Linked DNA regions of Homo sapiens: regions 2 and 3 are each linked to region 1. Evidence: fine-mapped expression QTL. A gene starts in region 1. Each other region holds a variant in brackets. All regions are shown on one strand. Distances are between the middles of the regions.

What was found. PIP is the estimated chance that this variant, and not a neighbour inherited with it, causes the effect.
Region 2: its variant is fine-mapped to the expression of EXO5-DT in skeletal muscle (FUSION, PIP 0.95).
Region 3: its variant is fine-mapped to the expression of EXO5-DT in coronary artery (GTEx, PIP above 0.99).

Annotation. Positions count from the first base shown.
Region 1 is chr1:40,504,784-40,512,981 of GRCh38, forward strand. It overlaps EXO5-DT (EXO5 divergent transcript), which reads right to left and starts at 3,912. Exons shown (of 2, transcript NR_187365.1): 1 at 3,806-3,912. EXO5 (exonuclease 5) reads left to right here and starts at 3,984. Exons shown (of 4, transcript NM_001346953.2): 1 at 3,984-4,125; 2 at 4,668-4,842; 3 at 4,950-5,007. RefSeq lists enhancers at 4,021-4,270, 4,301-4,390.
Region 2 is chr1:41,410,584-41,418,781 of GRCh38, forward strand. No RefSeq gene overlaps it. Among named protein-coding and RNA genes, the nearest start is that of FOXO6-AS1, 39 kb to the left of the region's middle. The variant TACAC/T (reference allele first, on the strand shown) is at 3,229.
Region 3 is chr1:40,351,880-40,360,077 of GRCh38, forward strand. It overlaps a transcript of SMAP2 not described here. Among named protein-coding and RNA genes, the nearest start is that of SMAP2, 18 kb to the right of the region's middle. The variant G/A (reference allele first, on the strand shown) is at 4,571.

The DNA.
Region 1 (8,198 bases):
GTCTTACATGGCAGCAGGCAAGAAGCTTGTGTAGGGGAACTCCCCTTTATAAAACCATCAGATATTGTGAGACTTATTCACTATCACGGGAACAGCACAGGAAAAACTCGTCCCCATGATTCAATTGCCTACCACTGGGTCCCTCCCATGACACATGGGGATTATTAAAATTCAAGGTGAGATTTGGGTGGAAAACACAGAGCCAAACCATATCACCAATATATCCAAAACATTATCATCTCAACATTTAATCAATGTAAACATTATTAGTGAGTTATTTAACCTTTTTTTTGTACTCAGCTTCAAAGTGCTTGTAAATGTTATAATTATAGCACATTTCATTTTGGACTAGCCACATTTCAAGTGTTCAAGAGCCACATATGACTAGTGGCTACTGTATTGGACAGTGCAGCTCTGGGAGTAATCACATAAAGACTTACTCCGATATATGGTAGACTGTAGTCAGTACAATGTTAGGGGTACAGTCCTGTGCTCCAAAACACCAAGGAGGGAAGAATGGACACAGAGGAAAATGGGCCATTTGTGTCTAACAGTATTTTGATGGTTACAGACCTGGAGATGGAAGAACCAAATCAGTGACTTTTGCATACAGGTGGGCCTTAAGGACTCAGACTTCCTAGGATAGCCTTTTGGGGAAAAGGGCATTCTTTTCTCAGTTTTGAGACCCACAGTCTTTAGGCTGAAAGTTTTGGGGAATATATGGTACTATGTTTTTGATATTTATTTTCCCCACAAATTCCATGACTGTTTCTAAATCTCTTCTGCTTCACTCTACCCAGTGTCATTGCCCCTCAAACCCCATTTGAGGAGTGGTCCATGTGTGAAGGGGTTGGGGAGGGGTTTTCCTGGCATTCAGTTTACATCTCAAGTAAGAAAGGTTATGTTGGGGAAGAGGCAGAAAGTTTTTGTAGCCTCAATCCAGAAATGCCTTCTCATATCTCAATGGATTAAAAAGCATTTCCTCAATGATATGGTTTGGTTGTCTCCCAACCCAAATCTCATCTTGAAGTGTAGCTCCCATAATTCCCACATATCATGGAAGAGGTACCTGGTAGGAGGTAATTGAATCGTGGGGGCAGGTCTTTCCCATGCTGTTCTCGTGATAGTGAATAAGTCTCACAAGATCTGATGGTTTTGTTTTGTTTCGTTTTTGTTTTTGAGATGGAATTTCACTCTTGTTGCCCAGGCTGGAGTGCAGTGGCGCGATCTCAGCTCACCACAACCTCCGCCTCCCAGGTTCAAGTGATTCTCCTGCCTCAGCCTCCCGAATAGCTGGGATTACAGGCGTCTGCCACCATGCTTGGCTAATTTTTTGTATTTTTAGTAGAGATAGGGTTTCACCATGTTGGCCAGGCTGGTCTTGAACTCCTGACCTTAGGTGATCCACCAGCCATGGCCTCCCAAAGTGCTGGGATTACGGGCATAAGGCACCACACCCAGCTGACCTGATGGTTTTATAAAGGTGTGTTCCCCTGCACATGTTCTCTCTTGCCTGCCACCATGTAAGAGGTGACTTTGCTCCTCCTTCACCTTCCTCCATGATTGTGAGGCCTCCCCCGCCATGTGGAGCCGTGAGTCAATTAAATCTCTTTCCTTTATAAATTACCCAATCTCAGGTATGTCTTTATTAGCAGCATGAGAACAGACTATTTAATACACTTAAATTCCATTTTTTTTTTTTTTTTTTTTTGAGACAAGAGTCTCAGTCAGCCACCCAGGCTGGAGTGCAGTGGCATGATCTCGGCTCACTGCAACCACCATCTCCCGGTTTCAAGCGATTCTCCCATCTCAGCCTCCCGAGTAGCTAGGATTACAGGCACCTGCCATCATGCCCGGCTAATTTTTGTATTTTAGTAGAGACAGGGTTTCACCATGTTGGCCAGGCTGGTCTTGAACTCCTGACTTCAGGTGATCCGCCCGCCTCGGCCTCCCAAAGTGCTAGGATTACAGGCGAGAGCCACCGTACCTGGCCTCAACTTACATATTTCTAAGAAAAAGAACATTTTCCTACATAACCACAAAATCATTATGACACTCAGGAGACCTATAATTGATTGATAATATTATCTAAAACACAAGTCACTTCAAAATTTTCCCAACTGACGCACCAGAGTAGCTGGGACTACAGGCACGTATCACCACCCCCAGCTAATTTTTGTATTTTTTGTAGAGACGTGTTTTCACCATGTTACCCCAGCTGGTTTCTGAACTGAGCTCAAGGGATCCACCCACTTCGGCCTCCCAGAGTTCTAGGATTACAGGTGTGTGAGCCACTGCACTCAGCCTGTAGTTGTCTTAATTTAATGTTTCTCTTTCTTTCTTTTCTTTTCTTTCTTTCTCTTTCTTTCTTTTTCTTTCCTTTTTTCTCTTTCTTTTTTTCCTTTTTTTTTTTGAGACAGAGTCTCACTTTATCACCCAGGCTGGAGTGCAGTGGCCTGTTGTCGGCTCACTGCAAACTCCGCCTCCCAGGTTCAAGTGATTCTCCTGCCTCAGCCTCCCAAGTAGCTGAGATTACAGGCACCTGCCACCACACTTGGCTAATTTTTTGTATTTTTACTAGAAACGGGGTTTCACTATGTTGGCCAGGCTGGTCTCAACTCCTGACCTCAAGTGATCCGCCTACCTGGGCCTCCCAAAGTGTTGGTATTACAGGCATGAGCCACCATGCCTGGCCAATTTAATGTTTTTCTATTTTTGTTTTAAAATATTTACCTATTCTGAAGTCCAAAGATATTTTCCTATATTATATTCTGAAGACTTTATAGTTTAGGATTTCACATTTAGGTCTTAATCCAGCTACAATTGATTTTTGTGATGAAATGAGAGATAGAGGTCCTGTTTTCTGTTTTGTTTTTTTTTTTGAGACGGAGTCTCCCTCTGTTGCCCAGGCTGAAGTGCAGTGGTGTGATCTCCGCTCACTGCAACCTCCGCCTCCCGGTTCAAGCGATTCTCCTGCTTCAGCCTCCTGAATAGCTGGGACTACAGGTGTGTGCCACCACACCCAGCTAATTTTTGTACTTTTTAGTAGAGACAGGGTTTCACCATGTTGGCCAGGATGGTCTCGATCTCTTAACCTCGTGATCCGCCCACCTCAGCCTCCCAAAGTGCTGGGATTACAGGCGTGAGCCACCGTGCCCGGCCTTCATATTGTCATAGAACCTTCACTGAATAGACCATCTTTTCTCCATGGCTGTATGATGCCACCTTTGTCATAAATCCAGTTTTCAAGTATGCGTGATAAACCGTAAAGAAAAGCAAAGAGTCAAGTATCTGCTTTTGGTAAAATAAATAAATAAATAAATATAAATAAGAAAAGCAAAGTGTTATAAAAGTCGGGCTAGTGGTTTTCTCAGGAAGTGTATCTGTGAAGAACCTGACACTATTCTTTTTTCGCTCTAATGACTTGGCTGTTCATAATTATACTTATCTTTGGTTTATATTTCAGAATAAAATTGTGTTATATTTATCAATAAAAGGTTAGTTAAAAGTAAGCAAACAGAAAAAAAAAAAGAAATATTGATGAGGGGAGCGCCAGCATCTCTCAAAAGTGAGTTCGTGGTTTTGCTCTCAATGGAAAAGCCGGCGGGAGGTGCTAAGGTGGGGATGCTGAATCCACGGATGGCCAAGCGGAGACGCGGCACTTCACCGGGGGCAGCGAGGGGCCCAGACCTTGCTCGGATTGTCCCGGTGGTAACTGGGAGACCTCGCCAGTGAGGGAAGTTACAGATCAGCTGCGCCCGGAATTAAACGACCCACAGACAACGGCGCAAACAGAGGGACTGACCTGCTTTAGTGAGCTCCCAAAACCTGCTCTCGCATAAGCACACCCTCCTCCGCTCACAGAGACGGATTTCTGCCCCAGCCGCAGCCTCGCGAGGTAGGCGGCGCCGCGAGGGCCTCTGGGAAGGCGGTCCGTGGGCAGCCGCGGGGCACTCTGGGACTGGGCTCTGGGCGGCTTTTTTGCGAGTGGCGGGCCGACTGTGTAGTCCGCTCCGGCAGCGCGCTCTGCCCGGCTTCCTCAGTCTCCTCGCCGGGAGCGTCCGGGAGCAGCTCCGAGGCCGCGGCGAAACCAGGTGGAGTCCGAGGTTCGGAGGAGTATCAGAGGTTAGGGGAAGGCCGGAGAATGGGCTGGGAGGCTGCGTTTCGGAGCTTAGGGTTCTGTCCCTGCGATCGCCGCGTCTCCCTCCCTTGGTGGGCGCGGCTCCCGGGAAGCGGCTCGTCTCGTCTCCCCTCACAGGCCGGGTTCCCGTTCTGGACCTTCGCCCTCGGAACACAGTGCTGTTGGCCGGGACTCCTTCCCGAGGTGGACGGCTCCCTGTTCTTATTCCTGGCTCTGCCAGAACTGTAGGAAGTGCTCAGTACACTTTAGGGCATGCATGGCACTCCCTGGGAGACAGTGCTTTAGGGCCAGAGGAAAGATCTTCCCTGAAGGCAAACGCCCGCGGAGCCCACAAGTCCGGGCCGCACTGAACAAGTCAGGATGTTGCCATCGGCAATTCTGCAGAAGGCAGTAACCCATCTGAGAGAAAGAGCCGCTGTCATAAGGTCTCTTGCTTGAGCTGCTGGGTTGAGAATGGAGCTGGAAGAGGGAACTGATCTCGGAGCTCCTTGGGGATCTTGGTTATGTCTGACCCTTTTACTTTCAGGGAGCAGGGATTGGATCAAGTCATTGCATCTAGAGTACGGGGGAACGAAGAAATCATGGAGAGAGTTTGCCCCAGGAGAGAGGCGAGCGTTATGTAACCTAGGATCTGGGGTGGGTAACAGTCTGTGCAGTGTCAATGTGAGAGGAGAAAACACCCAACGTGAGGGAATGGTCAGGTAAGAAAGGACCAGAAGTTCCGGTTCTACCATAGCAAGGACCTAAGTTGCTAATTTAGGTTCTTTAATGCAGACCTGGTCTTTCAGAACTTCTTTCTCTTCCCTAGCCTTGTCATTTCAGCATTCTGGCCTTCCCTATGAGGAGGAAGATCAACGAAGTCACAGGTGAATAGGAGTTTCTCTTCTAAAGTTTCATCTCCTTTGTCAGGGGGAATCGATACACTCTCTCATCTCTTCCTTGGGGAAAAAGAAGGAGATCTATCTTCATCGAGTGCTAATATGCGTACTATATGTTATCACTCAATGGTCGGATATCTCAGTAGGGTTAGTAGGTATTTTAAAAATGTGTCAGTAACTTCAGGAAAACTAGAACCTTGTCCAAGCTTACTCAAAAGGCAAGTAGCATACTACTAAATGCTACCGAACTACTCAGGATTAGGTTTAGAATCCATATCTGTAGGACTCCCAGACTCTTGGCATTATGCTGTTTCCCAGCATCCCATTCACTTACTACCTAACAATTTTGCCATACCTGTGTACTACCTGTATTATTCTATGTTTTTACTTACTTTTTTTTTTTATAAAAATCAAACTTGTCCTAAGAAACAATATCTGTGAAATTAGCCATTTGATGGCTGCTCCAATAACAGTATAGTTATTCTAAGGTGTATCTAAAAATGTTGGTCCATGTGCTATGTAAAATCGTCTCGTGTCAGACATACAAACTACAATTTGGGACACAATGCACTGCATTATGCTCTCTTCTGGATTCTTTTCTGCGTAGGAAAGTCCCAGACACATCTGAGCATCAGTCATCCATCCCTAGTGTACTGTTTTATTCTTATAGATGAATACTTTCACAGAGAATGCCCTGCTTTGTATCTTCTCCAAAAGACATTTCACTTCCCTGTTTAGAACTACCTGTTCTCAATGTTGTATGTAAAACAAGTAGGAACTCCATACATTTCAGGAGCTTCCTCTCTCTTTGGGGAGTTAATGTGTACACAGGAAATAGTCTAACTCTATGCTGTTCAGTAGAGCTTTCTGTGATCAGGGAATGTTCTGTATCTGTGCCTTATCTGTATCCACCAGCCAGATGTAGCTACTGAGCACTTAATATATGGCTAGTGCAACTGAGATGTGAATTTTATTTTATTTTAATTAAATTTAAGTAGCCACATATGGCTAGTGGCTACTAATGGCTACCATATTGGACAGCCAGGTCTAGATATTTGAAATAAAATATTTTAAGGTTATTGATTTGGACTTGGAGTTCCCCCTCACCCTCACAAATACCTCATAGCATATGTGTTATAAATGCCCTTTAGGGCTGGGTGCGGTGGCTCACGCCTGTAATCACAGCACTTTGGGAGGCCGAGGCGGGTGCATCACGAGGTCAGGAGATCGAGACCATCCTGGCTAACACGATGAAACCCCGTCTCTACTAAAAAATACAAAAATTAGCTGGGCGCGGTGGCGGGTGCCTGTAGTCCCAGCTACTCGGGAGGCTGAGGCAGGAGAATGGCGTGAACCCGGGAGGCAGAGCTTGCAGTGAGCTGAGATCCCGCCACTGCACTCCAGCCTGGGTGAAAGAGTGAGACTCTGTCTCAAAAAATAAAATAAAAGAAAAGAAAAAATAAATGCCCTTTAACTTTAGTTTCTTGGTGAAGGGTAAATATTCTTTCCAATTTTCAGAGACTTCATAGTTGAAATAAAGTTTCTTGAAATTATTTAAAGCACATTGACAGTTTATAACACTTGTGTAAATGCACAGCTTCTGTATTTTGTTACTATTGAAATATCCTGTAAAGCAATAATGTTGTAGGATACTCTATAAGCAAAAGTCTTACTATTGTATTATTTTTATTCATTGCAGATAACTTTTCTTCTAGCTATCTATGTTTTCTTTCATTAGTGACATTTAGACTATTTAAAAATCAGTTAAACACAACCACAACTGATATTAATGACGTTTTCAGGGCATCACTTCTTACGCTTTGACATAGGAGTTGGTGCATTCACCTTATTTCACTGCTTATTAGAATAGCAAGAAGGGGACATTTGGTTCATAGCTATCTCTATCAGCTAAAATTCTATGTCAAATTATTTATTTTCCTGGCACTCAAAGTCAAACACTAATGGACTGGTTGTATCTTGTTTTGCTTACTCTCTATGCAGGTTAGATATGTGGGGTTAGAAGGAAGGCTTAAAAAGAGTATCTTCATAAGATAATTTGCCTAGTTTCTTTTTTCTTTTTTCTTTTTTTTTTTTGAGACGGAGTCTCGCTCTGTTGCCCAGGCTGGAGCACAGTGGTGGGATCTCAGCTCACTGCACGCTCCGCCTCCTGGGTTCACGCCATTCTCCTGCCTCAGCCTCCCAAGTAGCTCGGACTACAGGCACCCACCACCAAGCCCGGCTAATTTTTTGTACTTTTAGTAGAGACAGGTTTCACCGTGTTAGTCAGGATGGTCTCGATCTCCTGACCTCATGATCCGCCCGCCTTGGCCTCCCAAAGTGCTGGGATTACAGGCGTGAACCACTGCGCTTGGCCGCCCAGTTTCTTAAGATTAAAAAATACTTGAAAGACAAAACAATCAAACATAATGTGTGGTCTTTGTTTCCTGGATTAAAGAAAAGCTATCTAGGACATTTTGAGGACAGTTGGGGAAATTTATATATGAACTGGAATGTTAAGGAATTACTAATTTTGTCAGATGTGATAATGTAGTTATGAGGAGAATGTCATTTGGAAGACAGTATTGTGGTTATGAAGAAGAATGCCATTTGGAAATTATGCTGAAACATTTAGATTTTAAAGTTTTATGCTATCTGTAATTTACTTTAAAATAGTTCAGCCAAAACAAAAAAGTACACACACAAGAAGTAAATACAGCAAAATGTCAACAGTTGTTCATCTACATGGTGTGGACATGGGTGTTTGTTGTTTTATTCTTTCTACTTCTCTGTATGTTTGAAAATTTTCTTTTTCTTTTGAGATGGAGTCTTCACTCTGTCACCCAGGCTGGAGTGCAGTGGTGTTATCTCAGCTCACTGCAACCTCCACTTCCTAGGTTCAAGCGATTTTCCTGCCTCAGCCTCCCGAGTAGCTAGGATTACAGGTGCCCGCCACCACACCCGGCTAATTTTTTGTATTTTTAGTTTCACCATGAGGTGTATTTTTAGTTTCACCATGCTGGCCAGGCTGGTCTCAAACTCCCGACCCCAGGTGATCCACCTGCCTCGGCCTCCCAAAGTGCCGAGATTACAGGCTTTAGCCACTGTACCCGGCCTTGAAAATCTTTATAGTAAAAAGTTGAAAGAAAAAAGGAGTACAGTACCCATCCCCATCCCACAGT
Region 2 (8,198 bases), 910 kb after region 1:
GTGCAATCCAACAAGATGCAGTGGGGCCAAGAGAGATACTAGAGCTTTGTGGTGGATCAGAATGGCTGGGTCTTGACATATTGGTAGGAGTTTTCTGGGCAAAGAAGGGGAAGAATATTCAGATACAGAGAACAGTGTGAGCAAAGGCACAGAGGCATGAAAATCTCTTGTGTTCAGAAATTAGAGGTGGTTCAGTCTTAGTGGGATATTAGAGTTGAGACAAACAAAAACTAGAGATCAGGCTGGAGAGGTAACTGGGGGCAATGATAAAAGGTCTTAAATGCCAGTCCAAGGGGTTTGGACCTTATTCTGTAGGCAACAAGGGAGCCATGGAAGGCTCTAGAGCAGGAGCAACATGATCAGATCTATGTTTAATTTTAATTTTTATCTTTTTGAGACAGGGTCTTGCTCTGTTGCTCAGGCTGGAGTGCAGTGGCACGATCTTGGCTCAGTGCAGCCTCAGTCTCCAGGGCTCAAGCGATTCTTCTGACTCAGCCTCCTGAGTAGCTGGGACTACAGTGTGTGCCACCATGCCCCACTAATTTTCTTCTTTTTTTTTTTTTTTGTAGAGATAGTTTCACCATGTTGCCCAGACTGGTCTTGAACTCCTGGGCTGAGGCAATCTGCCTGCCTCAGCCTCTCAAAGTGCTGGGATTGCTGGGATTACAGGTGTGAGCCACTCTACCCAGCCCGGATCTATAGTTTAGAAAGTCCTCCCTCCAGCAGTCAGTGTGGAAGATGGATGGAGAAAAGATATTGGCTTGGGACTGCAGTCATCTGCAGGTTCACCTGGGTGAAAGCATCTGCTTCTAAGATGACTCATCACACACCTGCAGGCTGGAGCAGCTTGCTGGCAAGAAGCCTCATTTCCTTTCCACTGGGCTGCTTGAGTCTCCTCACAACATGGCAGCTGGCTTCCCCCAGAGAAAGTGATTTAAGAATGAGTGAGACGGAAGCCTCACTGTCCTTTTGCGACCTAGCCTAGGAAGCCACACTCTGTCACTTTCATAATATCCCATTGTGTACAAAGATCAGCTCTGTTCAATGACTACACAGGGATGCAACTACCAGGTGATGACAAGCACCGGGGACTTCTTGGAAGCTGCTACTACAGACAGAGGTCATCTTCTTCAACTCCTTTGTTTTTTGGATGAGGAAGCTGAGACCCAGAGATGGGTGGGGACTCACTCAGGGGCACGTAGCAAGTTTGGGCCATGACCAGGGCTACATGGTGGAGTCTACATAGGCCTGGGGGACTGGGATCTTCTTTCCTGGAAGGCCTAGAAGGAGGAGAGGCCCAGGCCAGGTGTGGTGGCTCATGCCTGTAATCCCAGCACTTTGGGAGGCCAAGGCGGGCAGATCACTGGAGGTCAGGAGTTCAAGACCAGCCTGGCCAACATGGTGAAACCCCATCTCTACTAAAAATACAGAAATTAGCCTGGCATGGTGGTGGGCACCTGTAGTCCCAGCTACTCAGGAGGCTGAGGCAGGAGAATCACTTGAACCTGGGAGGCAGAGGTTGCAGTGAGCCGAGATCGTGGCACTGAACTGCAGCCTGGGCCACAGAGCAAGACACTGTCTAAAAAAAGAAAGAAAGAAAGAAAGAAAAAGAAAAAAACAAGGAGAGGCCATCAGGAGGCGGATTCAGCCCCTGCTCACTTGGGAGGCTGAGGGACTGGCCAACCTCTCTGAGAGCTGGCTGGGGAGTGGGACCTCCTCCCTAGCCTGTCCCTGGAGTATGAGCACCAAGCCAGGGCTGCTTCCGCCTGACCTGGGCAGCATCTCCCACCCTCCCCACCATGCAGCTCTTTGGCTGTGCAGGTGTGGAGGAGGCACATCTTGCTGGTTCATCTCTCCACTCTTTATTTATTCAACAAGGTTTTACCAAAAATCTCCTATGTGTCTGGCATCTCCAGGACCAATGTTGGACATACATGTCCCTTGACTTCATGCATGAAACTTACCATCAAGTGGGGTAGACCAACAAAGACATAAAGACATATGTTTGTACAAATTGTGAAACGTGCCTGTAGGAGAATAACAAAAACACTTCATTTAGATGAGGTAGTTGGGGAATGTTCTCTGAGGCAGTGACATTTAGGTCTAGACCTGAAGAAGTCAGGCAGACAAAGAGTTTGGGTGACAGGGTGGGAAGGGTGTTCCAAGCACAGGGACCCCAGTGTGCAGAGTTGGCTAGGAGGGGTGAGTTGGGGCAGTGGACCTTCAGGGGTGCCCTGAGCGAGTTGGAGCAGGGCGAAGGGGCTGATGTGGAGAGGCCAGGGCCGGTCTGGGCTTGCCCTGCCACCAGGCTAACCTCAGTCTGCCTGCTGCATAGCAAGTGACCCCACGTGGCTCTGGAAAGGAAAACATGGGGAGTGGCATGCAGGCTGGACTGTCACCGAGATGGCCCTGAGCAGGACCCTTCGCCCTACAGGATGAACAGGCAGACCTTGCAAAGGACAGAGATAAGGCAGGTCTTTCAGCAGGCTGCTGCCAGGAAACTCGGGTGTGGGTGGAGGCAGGGGGCGTGGAAAGGGGACTGCATGGGAATTTGGGGCCCCAGAGCTCTGGTGGAGAGGAGACCCCAAAATGTCAGAGCCCTAGGATCATGAGCCTCCCCTGGGGAGCATCCCAATGCATTTCTTGTTCCCTGTGGCCTCAGGTGTGGGTGACGCCTGAGCTAAGCCAACTCTGGCACTGTCCTGCTGTGTGACCTCAAGGAAGCCTCTCTCTCTCTGAGCCTCAGTGCCCTTCACTGTCAAAAGGGCATTAAAATCCCCTTGCAGAAAGTTGTCAGGATCAAAAGATATAATGGATAGGAAAGGGTCTTAGTGGTTGAGAAGTGACCCTCCCAACCCCCACGAGGCTGCTGGGTTCATCGTTGCTAATGAACTGGTTGGGGGCTGGCTTGGACGCCCATTAGCCACTGCTCTGCCTCGGTGCCCCAGGCCAGCTGAGAGCAGGCAGGGGCTGCTCCCACCAGGGGGCTGTGGGGTTAAGTGGGAGCTAAGAGGATTAGAGGGTCCTTGTGAGTGGTGCAGCGTGATCATCTCCCACTCACCCTTGCCTCCAGCCTGGGCTGTCTACATATCTGGCTGCGGGGCCAAGGAAGAGGGATGGAGGGAGGAGGAGGGAAGGAATCAAAGGGAAGAGGGATTCAGAGGAGCCAGGGAGATCTGCTGCACCCCCACGTTCATGCACATGCACAAAAAGTACACGCACAAAAAA[TACAC/T]ACACAACTACACACAAGAGCACATAAACACACACGTATGCAGTGTGCATATAGGTGTACTCGCAAGGATACACGCATGCATACATATTGCACACACATGCACATGAGTGTGTATGCAAGTACATATGCATGTGACAAGCATACAGCATACATGTGCACAGACACATGTGAGCACACATGCACATGCCCCGCACACCTGTGCATACTCACATGCATGTGTGGGTGTGCACAAACACACGTACACACTGGCCGGGTCATGCCCTCCCCCGCTACCCCAGTCTCTCACGCAGTTTGAGACCCAAGGCCTCACATGTCCCCAGGTCATAACTGCACTTCGGATGCTCCTTCAGTGTTACATCAATGACACACATAGCCTGTGACTTGCACAATGTCTCACAATGCTAGAAAGGGCCTGAGCCAGGATCTAAACTCATTTTGGAGGGTGGCGGGTGTGCCTGTATGGAGGGATGGAAGGTGAATCCAGGAGACCCCAAAGGGCTGCAGCCCCAGGAGCAGGAGGGGGCTGATGCTGGTAGAAAGAGATATTACACACCTGGCATGGAACTGCTCGGACATATGGTTACCAGTGCCCACCCCCCAGGCTGGCACATCACCTGCCCTCTGCTTCTCTCTCCTTTTAGCTCCCTGGACCCAGTCAGAGAGCTTCTAGCCAAGGGCCTGGTGTCTCATGAAGCGAACGGAGATCAGGCTGGCTGGGTGCCTGGTGCCCCTGAAGGAAGGAGGAAGGGAGCTGGCATCTGTGGAGGACCACTTCTGACCAAGACTGCCTAGTGAATGCTGGCCACTTTCATCTTGTTAAATTTTTAAGTGAAAGGTCAAGGGACTTGCAGGGTTCATGGGGCTGGAGCAGGACAAGGTGGGCCTTGACCTCAGGCATCCATCTCCATATAGCCATGGGCATGGCTGGACAGACATACAGGTTGGAGTGGCCTGGGCACAGCTGCCAACAGCAGCCCCCCCACCCAGCCCCGACTGCCACACTGCATGTGCTGTCCCTGCTGAGGCTGGGGGGAATGAGAAAGTGGAGTGAAGGCATGGAGAGGGCCTGGGTAAGGGGCTCGGGGCTGGACACCCTAGGCATAGCCACAGGTCCTTGAGCTCCAGAGTATCCTGGTGATGCCTGGGGCAGTTCTTGGGTCTCCCCCAAGAGACTGCTCTGGGGCAGGGTGAGCGAAGTCTCCCCCACTGGATGGCATGCTCTGAGGCTTCCTGGAGTTGTCCCCTGTGGCCTGCCAGGGGCCTGGCCGGTGCTGCAGCCTGAGATTTACAAGCCAGCCTGAAGGCGCAAACAATAAATCAAGCTTGAGTCTGGCCGTGGACTTGTCCTCCCACTGCCTTCCAGGCCTCTCACCTGCCATGTCCAAGCCAGGCACTAGAGCTGGGATGGGAGCATCGGGGAGGAGCCCTGGCCCAGCCTCCACCTTCCTGCTTCTCCCTGTGAGACCCTCTCTCTGGGTTTTCCAGGTACTGAGGCCTGGAGGTTAAGGGCTGGGGCTCTTGAAGCTGTCAGCCTGGGTCCAAGCACCAGAGCCCCTCTATTCCTGGTTGGGGAGCTTGTGCAGAGGCATAGCTCTGAGCATCCATTTATGGGGATAATGGTCACACCAGCACCAGGTGCCCTTGTGGGTTTGCTAAGGTGCTTAAAACAGGGCCTGGGAGGTAAGTTGCTCTTACCTGAGTCCCTAAAACAGAACAGAGGGACAAGGGTGTGGCTTTGCCTGTGCCCCAGGGTTTATCCCTCATTGTGTCTGTCCAAGTGCCTTGGGGAGAGGTCAGGGCAGCCCTTTCCCTAGAGGCTGCTGTGAATCACTGGGCTCAAAGCAGGGCCAGGACAGGGCTGACTGGGGAGGTGCTGGGAGGTGCCCCCAGCCACAGCCCTGCAGGCTCAGGGACAGGAACAGTGATAGAAACCAGCCTTTCCTGTCCCCTCTTCCCACTGTGGCTTTTCCTCCTCTGGACAACCCTATGAAGCAGATACTGTCCCTGTTTAAAGATGAGGTTGCTGATCTCATCCTTAGATGAGGGAGAAGAGGAGGTATGTGACTTGCCCAAGGTCACACAGCTCGTAAAAGGCAGGTGGAAATTTGAACCAGCCTCTCTGGGTTTTAGTGTCTCTCAAGAGCACACCAGGCCCAGTGGCTGGGACAGGACAGGACAGGGTGCTGGGAGTTGGTGAGGCCTGGCAAACCACAGGTGCTCACCAAGTATCATTCCCTCTGCCTTCGGAGGCTAGGGAGAGGGATGAAGGGTGCCTCTTCACTGCACAGGGGCCTGTAGGATGCCCAGCAGGGGCCCACCAGGGCTGAGTGGGGCGGGAGCTCAGGGAGGTTGGTGCCCCAGGTGAGTCCCAAGCCCTGCCCTGGAAGAGGCTCAGGAGATAAGCTGGGGCCCTAGGGCCGCATCTCCTAGCAACATGGCCTTGGGGACCCTGCCTGTCTGCCTCAGGTGCCCCAGGGAGCCCAGCTCAACCGCCATCCCCAGGTGTCTGGCTGAGGAACCTGCTGGGTGGGGGCGGAGCAGAGGGCGAGTGCCAAGCCTGGGCTTAGCCCCCAGGACAGGGAAAGAGGGTCCCCTCCTCCAGCCAAGGGTGAAGCTTCTGGGGTGTGGGGGGCTGTGGGGCTGAGAGGGGAGGGGTTTTCCTCTTCCCCTTCCAGCCGTCTCTCTGTGTCTGTCCCCATCTCTCTTCCTAGTGTGCTCCCTGCATCTGGGAGCTCTCCCTTCTCCCTTCCTCTGCCTCCTGCGGCCGCCCTCACTCCCCCACTTCTCCCTCAGGGTTCGGTTTCTCTGTCTGTCCGTCTATCTCTCTTCCTGTCCCACCCGTCTCTTCCGAATGTCTCTCCCACATCTCTCTCGTGCCCCCGCCCTGTTTCCCGTGTTGCTTTGCTCTGCCTCCCTCTGCCCCCCGCCCCCCTGGCTCTCTCCATCCCTTATGCTGAGGCCTCCCCACCCTCACACTTGTGGCTTCCCCTGTCTCCTGCAGCCTTCAGGGAGCCAGGGAGGCAGCGTAGGTGCTGGTACCCCAGCCTCGGTTGGGAGTCATACCACGGATGCTTAGGGGGTGTGCAGGGAAGCCAGCCTGAACAGGAAGACAAAAATTCACTCATGACCTGGGGCTGATCTTGCCTTCTCTTGGGCCTCAGTTTCCCCATCTGTGAAATGGGTCTAATGGCTTTGGTAGGAAGTATCCGTGTTCTCTAGGCTGTTGTGGATCACAGGCTGTGATAGAAATGGACAGAATGTCAGGCTGAGGTGGTGTAGGGCATCTTCTGGAGAAAGGGCTGTGGTGGTGGAAGCCCTTCTGGAGGATGGAGGCTCATCCTTGTCCTTCTGGCCGGCAGGCTTTGGCTGGCACTGCCCTCCTCCCTCAGGAGTGGTCTTCCTGGGGTGAGTCAGGGAGGCCTTGGCGCACTTGGCTGCATCATGGTGCCCTCTGGTGGCATGCGGCAGAAACTGCTGCCACATTTTGCTCTGCCCTCTGGTCCTGGGCGGGTGTGGACTCCAGGGCTTGCTGAGTGACCCTGGGCCCTGGGAATGCCAGTAGGAGCTAAACTCTACTGTGCACTAGGTGAGTGCCAGGCTTCTCTGCACCACAACTGCTTCTGTGCACTCTCCTATTTCGTCTTCACCCTGCCCCACTATTATCCCCATCTTACAGATGGGAAAGTTGAGACCCAGGGTTTTAACCCAGGCAGTTGGCTCCACAGCCAGCACTCTTGACACCACACTTGGAATTCTGCCTCTAAAATGACTCCAGCAGATGCTACAATCCCACTATCAGTGAAGACCCATTCTTTGGGGCTATTTATTTGTCTAACAAATATGTATTTACACTTGCTATTTTCAGAGCCAAAGGAGCTCACAGAATGCACTTAGCCTGATTGTGTCACTTTACAGATGGTGAAACTGAGACCCAGAGAGGGGGAGTGACTGTCCCATGGTCACATGTGTGAGTATGAGGGTGTATGGTAGGACTAATGGATGGCAGTGCGATTGTCAAGCCCAGCATGTGTGAGGCAGTGTGGGACGGGCATAGGAGACAAAACACGATGAGTGCAGTGTTCTGGGGTGAGGGAGGCCACAGTGGGTAGGAGCTAGGGGCCACCCCACCCTAAGTGGGAAGCACCGCTGGAGGAAATGCATGGGGCAAGGGTGGGTGTGAGCTTGGATATGGGCGTGGCTGGGGTCAGTGTCTGAGCTGTGTGAGGGAGAAAGCGGAAGGGAAATGTCTAGGAGCCAGTGGGAGCCACTGGAGGGGGCCACAGTTTCCCAGCACCTGCCTGGTGCCAGGCAATGCAAGGAGTAGGACAGCCTGTCCTCATGGAGCCTGCATTCCAGGGGCTGAAAGCACAGATCACTCCAGAAACAGGCCTCTCACATCCCATCCATGGTGATGGACTCAGAACAGTGTGGGAGGCAAGGCAAGGGGTCTTGATGGGAGCTCCCTGGGGTGAGTGAAACGGTCTAGAGCTTAGCCTGGGGGGTAGTGACCCGGAGGGTTCAGAGGTAGAAATACATCGAGCTGTTCACTTCAAAATAGTGCCCCTTACTGTATGCAAATCTTACCTCAATTAAAAAAGAAGAAAACAAAAAAACCTAGCCTTCTGCTTTGGGTGGGAGGGAAAGTGGGAGTGGCCAGTAATTGTGGCCTGGGTGGAGAGGACCTAGACAGAGAGGTGCTGGCAGAGAATTCTACGGAAAGTTTGCTGGTGGGAGTGAAAGCTGGAACTCGGCTCTAGGTTTCTGAGGAGCCCCAGGGGATGAAGCTGCAAAGATGTGGGGAGGCTCAGGGATCCTGGGGCATCCCATCTCTGGAAGAGCCTCCCCTCTGCAGAAGTGGCAAGAAGCCCTCCGAGAGTGTGGGTCTGGGATGCTTTTTGTCAAATCTGCAGGTGCCTGGGTCCGCAGTCTACTCCTCTGCTGGGGGTGGAGGGGATCCCCTAGATCT
Region 3 (8,198 bases), 150 kb before region 1:
TACCCACCTCGGCCTCCCAAAGTGCTGGAATTACAGGTGTGAGCCACCGTACCCAGCCAGATTCTTAAGCTTCTTTGGGTTATGCACATCCCTGCAAATCTGAGGCCCTCTCTCCCCAAGACTGCACACACCCGCACATCCATGAATTTTTTTTTCTTTTTGTAAAGTGAAAGCAAGTTTATTAAGAAAGTAAAGAAACAAAAGAATAGTTACTCCATAGGCAGAGCAGCTCCATGAAATTTTTCATACAATTTCAGGGGGTTGATATTATAAATAATGTTTAAAATAAATAGTGTTGATAAGGTGCCAAAGTCCATCTGTGGACCCAGGATAAGATGCCCTCCAAGCTTTAATGATATTAGGAACAGGGTGGAGTTCAACCTTCTCAGCACAGCATACAAGGCCTTTCGTGATCTGGCCCTCACCCTCTGTCCAGCTTCTCCTAATGCTTGCCACATGTAACCTCTCTAGCAGCTCAGAGTTCTTTTTCAGTTCTGCATTTTCATGCATTTTAATCTCTCTGCCTATAATGTTCTCCTCCTTGATTGCTCGGAAAAGAACTCCACTCTGTCAAGGCAGAGTTCGTCACTTCTTTCTCTTCTTCCTTCTTTGTTGTTTCCCTTGCTCATTTTAAAATATTTTAATTTAAAAAGTTTTTCTATTTTTTTTTACTTTTAAAGACAGGATCTTGCTCTGTCATCCAAGCTGGAGTGCAGTGGCATGATCATAGCTCACTGCAACCTTGAACTCCCAGGCTCAAGCAATCCTCCCACCTTAGCTAGGACTACAGCAGCAAGCCACCATTCTCTGCTAATTTTTTAAAAAGTTTGTAGAGACAATGCCTCGCTATGTTGCCCAGGCTGGTCTCAAACTCCTGGCCTCAAGCGATCCTCCCTCCTTGGCCTCCTAAAGCTCTAAGATTACAGGTGTGAGCCACCACACGCGGCGCCTCCTCCTCATTTTTGATGGGAAAGGATTATTTTAGCATGATGTGTAATGATCTCGACCACAATTGATAGATATTAACAACAATGAAATTTTTATGTCTGGGTACTCCCATCTGAAGAATCTGAAAGTTCTAAGACTACGTTTGCAGATGGAGTCAGGCATGACGTTTTCCATGGTCCTGACCACCATGGACTCTATGGCAGACATTGTCCGGGGTTGCCCACAGCCATGTCCAGCACCCATCTCTCTTGCTGCCTCCTGCCATAAGGGCTTTCCTGGTGTCCTTTGCAGTTAGAGGCTGAGCCATGCAACCTAGTTTTGGCCAAGGAGTCTTAAGGGAAAGACTGCTGTGAGCTTCTCGGAAAACTTTTGTTTTCCTGATAAAAGAAACAGCTAAGATTGGGGACATTCCTTTTCTCTTCTTCCTTCATTGGAAGATGATGCAATGTTTAGAGCTGTGGTGACCATCTTGTGACCATGAGGTGATTTACATGAGCAGCAGTTCTCATACTTGAATGTGCACCAGAATAGTCACCCAGAGGGCTTCTTTATTTTTTTGAGACAGAGTTTTGCTCTTGTTGCCCAGGCTGGAGTGCAATGGCATGATCTCAGCTCACAGCAACCTCCGCCTCCCGGGTTCAAGTGATTCTCCTGCCTCAGCCTCCTGAGTAGCTGGGACTACAGGCATTTGCCACCATGCCCGGCTAATTTTTTGTATTTTTAGTAGAGATGGGTTTTCACCATGTTGGCCAGGCTGGTCTCGAGTCCCTAATCTCAAGTGACCCACCCTCCTTGGCCTCCCAAAGTGCTGGGATTACAGGTCACTGCACATGGCCCAGAAGGCTTCTTAAAAGAGACTGCTGAGCCCTATCCTCAGAAGTTCTGATTTATACACCTAGAGTGGGCTGAGAATTTGCATTTCTCTCTTTCTTTCTTTTTTTTTTAACAGACAAGTATCTTGCTATGTTGGCCAGGGTGGTCTTGAACATCTGACCTCAAGCAATCCTCCTGCCTCAGCCTCCCAGAGTGCTGGGATTACAGGTGTGAGCCATCGTGCCTGGCCAGAATGTGCATTTCTAACAAGTTGCCAGGTGACACTGATGCTGCTTGTCTGGGGACCACACTTTGAGAACCATTAAACATCAGGATAAAAATACAATAGGTTGAGGATGGCAAAGCAGAATGATAAAGCCTGGGTGTTGATGGCCTTGTCCAGAAGCTGAATCAATGTAAACCACTCCCTTGCCTCTGGATTTCTTGTTCAGTGATAAAATAAACCACTCTTTAAGCTACTGTTAGTTGGGTTTCTCTTGATTCTCATTCAAAGGCCTTCTGAACTTACAGAGAGCTGGACTCTGTAGGAAGGGCACAAGCAGAGAAAAATCCAGAGGGATGCTCATCCAAGGGTGACTTCAAATGGAATAAAGACTGCCTCAACAGGAAATGTCTCAAATTATGTCCTAGAGTCCATGGGTGTTGATAATAGTAAGATTGTGAGTTTTTGTTTGTTTGTTTGTTTTGTTTTGCTTGTGAGATGGAGTCTCGCTCTGTCGCCCAGGCTGGAGTGCAGTGGCGTGATCCCGGCTCACTGATCTCCGCCTCCCGGGTTCAAGTGATTCTCCTGCCTCAGTCTCCCGAGTAGCTGGGACTACAGGCGCCCACCACCACACCCAGCTAATTTTTGTATTTTTAGTAGAGATGGGGTTTCACCATATTGGCCAGGCTGGTCTCAAATTCCTGACCTTGGGATCTGCCTGCCTCGATCTCCCAAAGTGCTGGGATTACAGGCGTGAGCCACCGTGCCCAGCCAAGTTTTTTAATATAAGGTTAGTTAATTTTTTTTAAATGAGAATTGTTTTGGATTTTATTAGCTTTAGTAGTATAACTTGTGACCAACTAGTCTGGCATATCAGAGCAGTGAAATGAACCAAAACATTGAATTTTTTTTTTTTTTTTTTTTTTTTTTTGAGACAGAGTCTCACTCTGTCACCCAGGCTGGAGTACAGTGGCGTGATCTCGGCCCTTAGCTCACTCCAACCTCCACCTCCCGGGTTCAAGTGATTCTCCTGCCTCAGTCTCCTGAGTAGCTGGGATTATAGGCACCCACGACCAAACCCAGCTAACTTTTGTATTTTTAGTAGAGAGGGGGTTTCACCATGTTTGTCAGGCTGGTCTCAAACTCCTGGCCTCAAGTCATCTGCCCGCCTCACCCTCCCAATGTTCTGCCAGCCTCACCCTCCCAAAGTGAGGCCTGAGGTGCACCTGGCCTCATTGAAGGTTTTACAGATCACCCTTATGCTGATACTGATAAAGAATAATTGTGGTTTTTGCCATTAAAATTAATGGCCATTAATAGAAACTGACCAGAGTTCTATTCTTGCTTTGCCACCTTCAGCACTCTTCCGGCCTCTACTCAGGTTATGATAGTGGTGCTTTTGCCTCTGACTAGTTTTCAAGGATAATGATGAGTATCAGTGCCTGTTTACTAAGAATTTTTGTTTTGGTCTCTTTTTTGCTTATTCCTCGTTATCACTATACTATTATACTTTCAATATGTATTTATAATTGCTTATTTTTAATTTTTAATTTTTGTGTGTACATAGTAGGTGTATGTACTTATGGGGTACATGAGATATTTTGATACAGACATACAATGCATAATAATCACATCAGGGTAAATAGGGTGTCTCAAGCATTTATTCTTCGTGTTACAAACAATTCAATTATACTCTTTAAGCTATTTTAAAATATACAATAAATTATTTTTGACTGTAGTCACCCTGTTGTGCTATCTAATACTAGATTTTTTTTTGAGACGGAGTCTCACTTTGTTGCCCAGGCTGGAGTGCAGTGGCACCGGTCAGGGCTCACTTCAGCCTTGACCTCCCAGGCTCAAGCAATCCTCCCTTCTCAGCCCCTCAAGTAGCTGGAACTACAAGCATGTGCTAATTTTTAAATTTTTTGTAGAGACGAGGTCTCACTATGTTGCCAAGGTTGCTGTGGAACTCCTGGGCTCAAACGACCCACCTGCCTCAGCCCCCCCAAAATGCTGGGATTATAGGTGTGAGCCACTGCACCCAGCAAATTCTAGATCTTATTCATTCTATCTAACTATATTTTTGTACCCGTTAACCATTCCCACTTTCCCCCACCCCCACTAACCTTCCCTGTCTCTGGTAACCATTATTCTTCTCTCTGTCTCCATGAGTTCAGTTGTTTTAATTTTTAGCTCCCACAAATGAGTGAGAACATGTGAAGTTTGTCTTTCTGTGCCTGGCTCATTTCACTAACATAATGACCTCCAGTTCCATTCTTGTTGCAAACTAGAGGATCTCATTCTTTCTTATGGCTGAATAGTACTCCATTGTATGTACGTACCACATTTTCTTTATCCATTTGTCTGTTGACAGACACTTAGGTTGCTTCTAAGTCCTGGCTATAGTGAACAGTGCTGCAATAAACAGGACAGTGCAGATATCCCCTCGATATACTGATTTCCTTTCTTTTGGATATACACCTTGCAATGGGATTGCTGGATCATATGGTTGTTCTATTTTTAGTTTTTTGTGGGTTTTTTGTTTTTTTTTGTTTTTTTTTTTTTGAGACCAAGTCTCGCTCTGTC[G/A]CCTAGGCTGGAGTGCAGTGGCGTGATCTCAGCTTACTGCAAGCTCTGCCTCCCGGGTCCACACCATTCTCCTGCCTCAGCCTCCTGAGTAGCTGGGACTACAGGCACCTGCCACCATGCCCAGCTAATTTTTTGTATTTTTGGTAGAGACGGGGTTTCACTGTGTCAACCAGGATGGTTTCGATCTCCTAACTTTGTGAGCCGCCCGCCTTGGCCTCCCAAAGTGCTGGGATTACAGGCGTGAGCCACCGTGCTGGACCCCTATTTTTAGTTTTTTGAGGAACCTCCAAACTGTTCTCCATAGTGGTTGTCTTAATTTACATTCCCAACAACAGTGTACGAGGGTTCCCTTTTCTTCACATCCTCTCTAGTGTTCGTTATTGCCTGTCTTTTGGATAAAAGCCATTTTAACTGGGGTGAGATAATATCTCATTTTAGTTTTGATTTGCATTTCTCTTATGATCAGTGATGTTGAGCAACTTTTCATATACCTATTTGACCTTTGTGTGTCTTCTTTGGAGAAATGTCTGTTCAGATTTTTTGCCCATTTTTAAATCAGATTATTAGATTTTTTTCCTATTGAGTTATTTGAGCTCCTTATATATTCTGTTTATTAAGCCCTTGTCAGATGAATGGTTTGCACATTTTTTTCCCCATTCTGTGGGTTGTCTCTTCATTTTGTTGATTATTTCCTTTGGATTGTTGAGTATTTCCAATGGACCCCATTGTCCATTTTTGCTTTGGTTTCCTGTGCTTGTGAGGTATTTCTTGAGAAATTTTGGATCACCTGAGGTCAGGAGTTCGAGACCAGCCTGGACAACATGGTGAAACCCCATCTCTACTTAAAATACAAATATTAGCCAGGCATGGTGACGTGTGCCTGTAGTCCTAGCTACTCAGGAGGCTGAGGCAGGAGAATTCCTTGAACCTGGGAGGCAGAAGTTGCAGTAAGCTGAGATCACACCACTGCACTCCAGCCTGGGCCACAGAGCGAGATTCTGTCTCAAAAACAAACAACAACCACAAAAAAAAAAAAAGAAGGAAATCTTTGCCCTGTCCAATGTCCCAGAGAGTTTCCTCAGTGTTTTCTTTTAGTAGTTTCACAGTTTGAAGTCTTAGATTTAAGTCTTAGATCAAATTTTGGTTTGATTTTCGTATATGGTGAGAAGGGTCTAGTTTCATTCTTCTACATATAGGTATGCAGTTTCCCTAGCACCATTTATTGAAGAGACTGTTTTTTCCCCAGTCAATATTCTTTGCATCTTTGCTCAAAAAGAATTCACTGTAGGTGTATGGATTTGTTTCAGGGTTTTTCATTTTGCTCCATTTGTCTATATGTCCATTTTTGTGCCAATGCCATGCTGTTTTGGTTACTATAGCTTTGTAGTATAATTTAAAGTCAGGTAATGTGATTACTCCAGCTTTGTTCTTTTTGCTCAGGATAGCTTTAGCTATTCTGGGTCTTTTGTGGTTTCATATAAATTTTAGGATTGTTTTTCCTATTTCTTTGAGGAATGTTATTGGTTTTTTTTTTAATAGGGATTGCATTAAATCTGTACATTGCTTTAGGCAATATGAATATTTTAACAATATTTATTCTTCCAATCCATGAACATGGAATACGTTTCCATTTTTTGTGTCATCTTGATTTATTTCATCAATGTTTTATAGTTTTTATTGTTAAGATCTTTCACTTCTTGGGTTAATTCTTATGTATTTTACTTAATTTGTAGCTATTGTAAATGGGATTACTTTCTTGATTTCTTTTTCAGATTGTTTGCTGTTGACATACAGAAATGCTACTGATTTTTGGCCGGGTGCAGTGGCTCACACCTGTAATCCCAGCACTTTGGGAGGCCAAAGTAGGTGGATTACTTGAGGTCAGGAGATCGAGACCAGCCTGGCCAACGTGGTGAAACACTGTCTCTGCTAAAAATACAAAAAATTAGCTGGGCGTGGTGGTGGACATGTGTAATCCCAGCTACTTGGGAGGCTAAGGCAGGAGAATTGCTTGAACCCAGGGGGCGGAGGTTACAGTAAGCCAAGATCACACCATTGCACTCTAGACTGGGCGACAGAGCAAGATTCCATCTCAAAACAAAACAAAACAAAAAACACACACAAAGTGCTGGGATTACAGGCATGAGCCACTGCACCTGGTCTTGAATTTTTAAAGACTTATTTTATGGCCTAACATATACTCTATCCTTGAGAATGATCCATGTGCTGAGGAGAAGAATATGTATTCCGCAGCTGTTGTATGAAATGTTTTGTATCTATTAGGTTCATTCGATTTTTAGTGCAGATTAAGTCTGATGTTTCTTTGTTGGTTTTCTGTCTGGATGATCTGCCCAGTGCTGAAAGTAGGGTGTTGAAGTTTCTAGCTATTAATGTATTGGGGTCTATTTCTCTCTTTAGCTCTAATAATATTTCCTTTATATATTTGGGTGCTCCAGTGTTGGATGCAGATATATACATCCTCTTGCTGAATTGATTCCTTTATCATTATATAATGACCTTCTTTGTCTCTTTTTATGGTTTGTATCTTGAAATCTATTTTGTCTGTTATAAATATAGTTACTTCTGTTCTTTTTTGTTTTCATTGACATGGAATATCTTTTTCCATTCCTTTATTTTCAGTCTATGTGTATCTTTTTTTGTTTGTTTGTTTGAGACAAAACCTTGCTTTGTTGCCCAGGTTGGAGTGCAGTGGCACAATCTCAGCTCACTGCAACCTCTGTCTCCCAGGTTCCAGCAATTCTCCTGCCTCAGCCTCCCAAGTAGCTGGAACTACAAGTGCGTGCCACCATGCCCAGCTAATTTTTGTATTTTTAGTAGAGACGGGGTTTCCCCATGTTGTCCAGGCTGGTCTCGAACTCCTGACCTCAGGTGACCCACCCACCTTGGCCTCCCAAAGTGCTGGGATTACAGGCATGAGCCACCGCACCCCTATTTGTGTCTTTATAAGTAAGTTTCTTGTATGCAACAGATCACCAGGTCTTGTTTTTTCATCCATTCAGCCACTTTATGTCTTTTCATCAGAGAGTTTAGTCCATTTACATTCAGTGTTATTATTGGTAAGTAAGGACTTATGCCTGCCACTTTGTTATTTGTTTTCTGGTTGTTTTGTGGTTTTCTCTTCCTTCTTTCCTTTCTACTTGTCTTCCTTTTAGTGAAGGTGGTTTTCTCTGGTGGTACACTTTACTTTTTTGCTTTTTATTTTTTGTTTATCTGTTGTTTGTTTTTTATTTGAGGTTACCATAAGGACTGCAAATCATCTCTTATAACCCATTATTTTAAACTGATGACAACTTAACACTGATTGCGTAAACAGACAAGCAAAGAAAAAAACTAATAAAAACTCAACACTTTATCCCCCTCCTTTTTAACTTTTTGTCATTTCTGTCTATATCTCATTGGACTGTCTATGTCTTGAAAAGTTGTAATTATTATTTTTGATCAGTAAGCAATCACAGTATCTGGTTTTAACTTCGTATTACAGAAAGAGGCACTGAAGAGGGTACAAAAGACAGACTTTTTTCTTCTTCTTCTTTCTTTTTTTTTTTTTTTTTTTTGAGATGGAGTCTCGCTGTGTCACCTAGGCTGGAGTGCAGTGGTGCGATCTCGG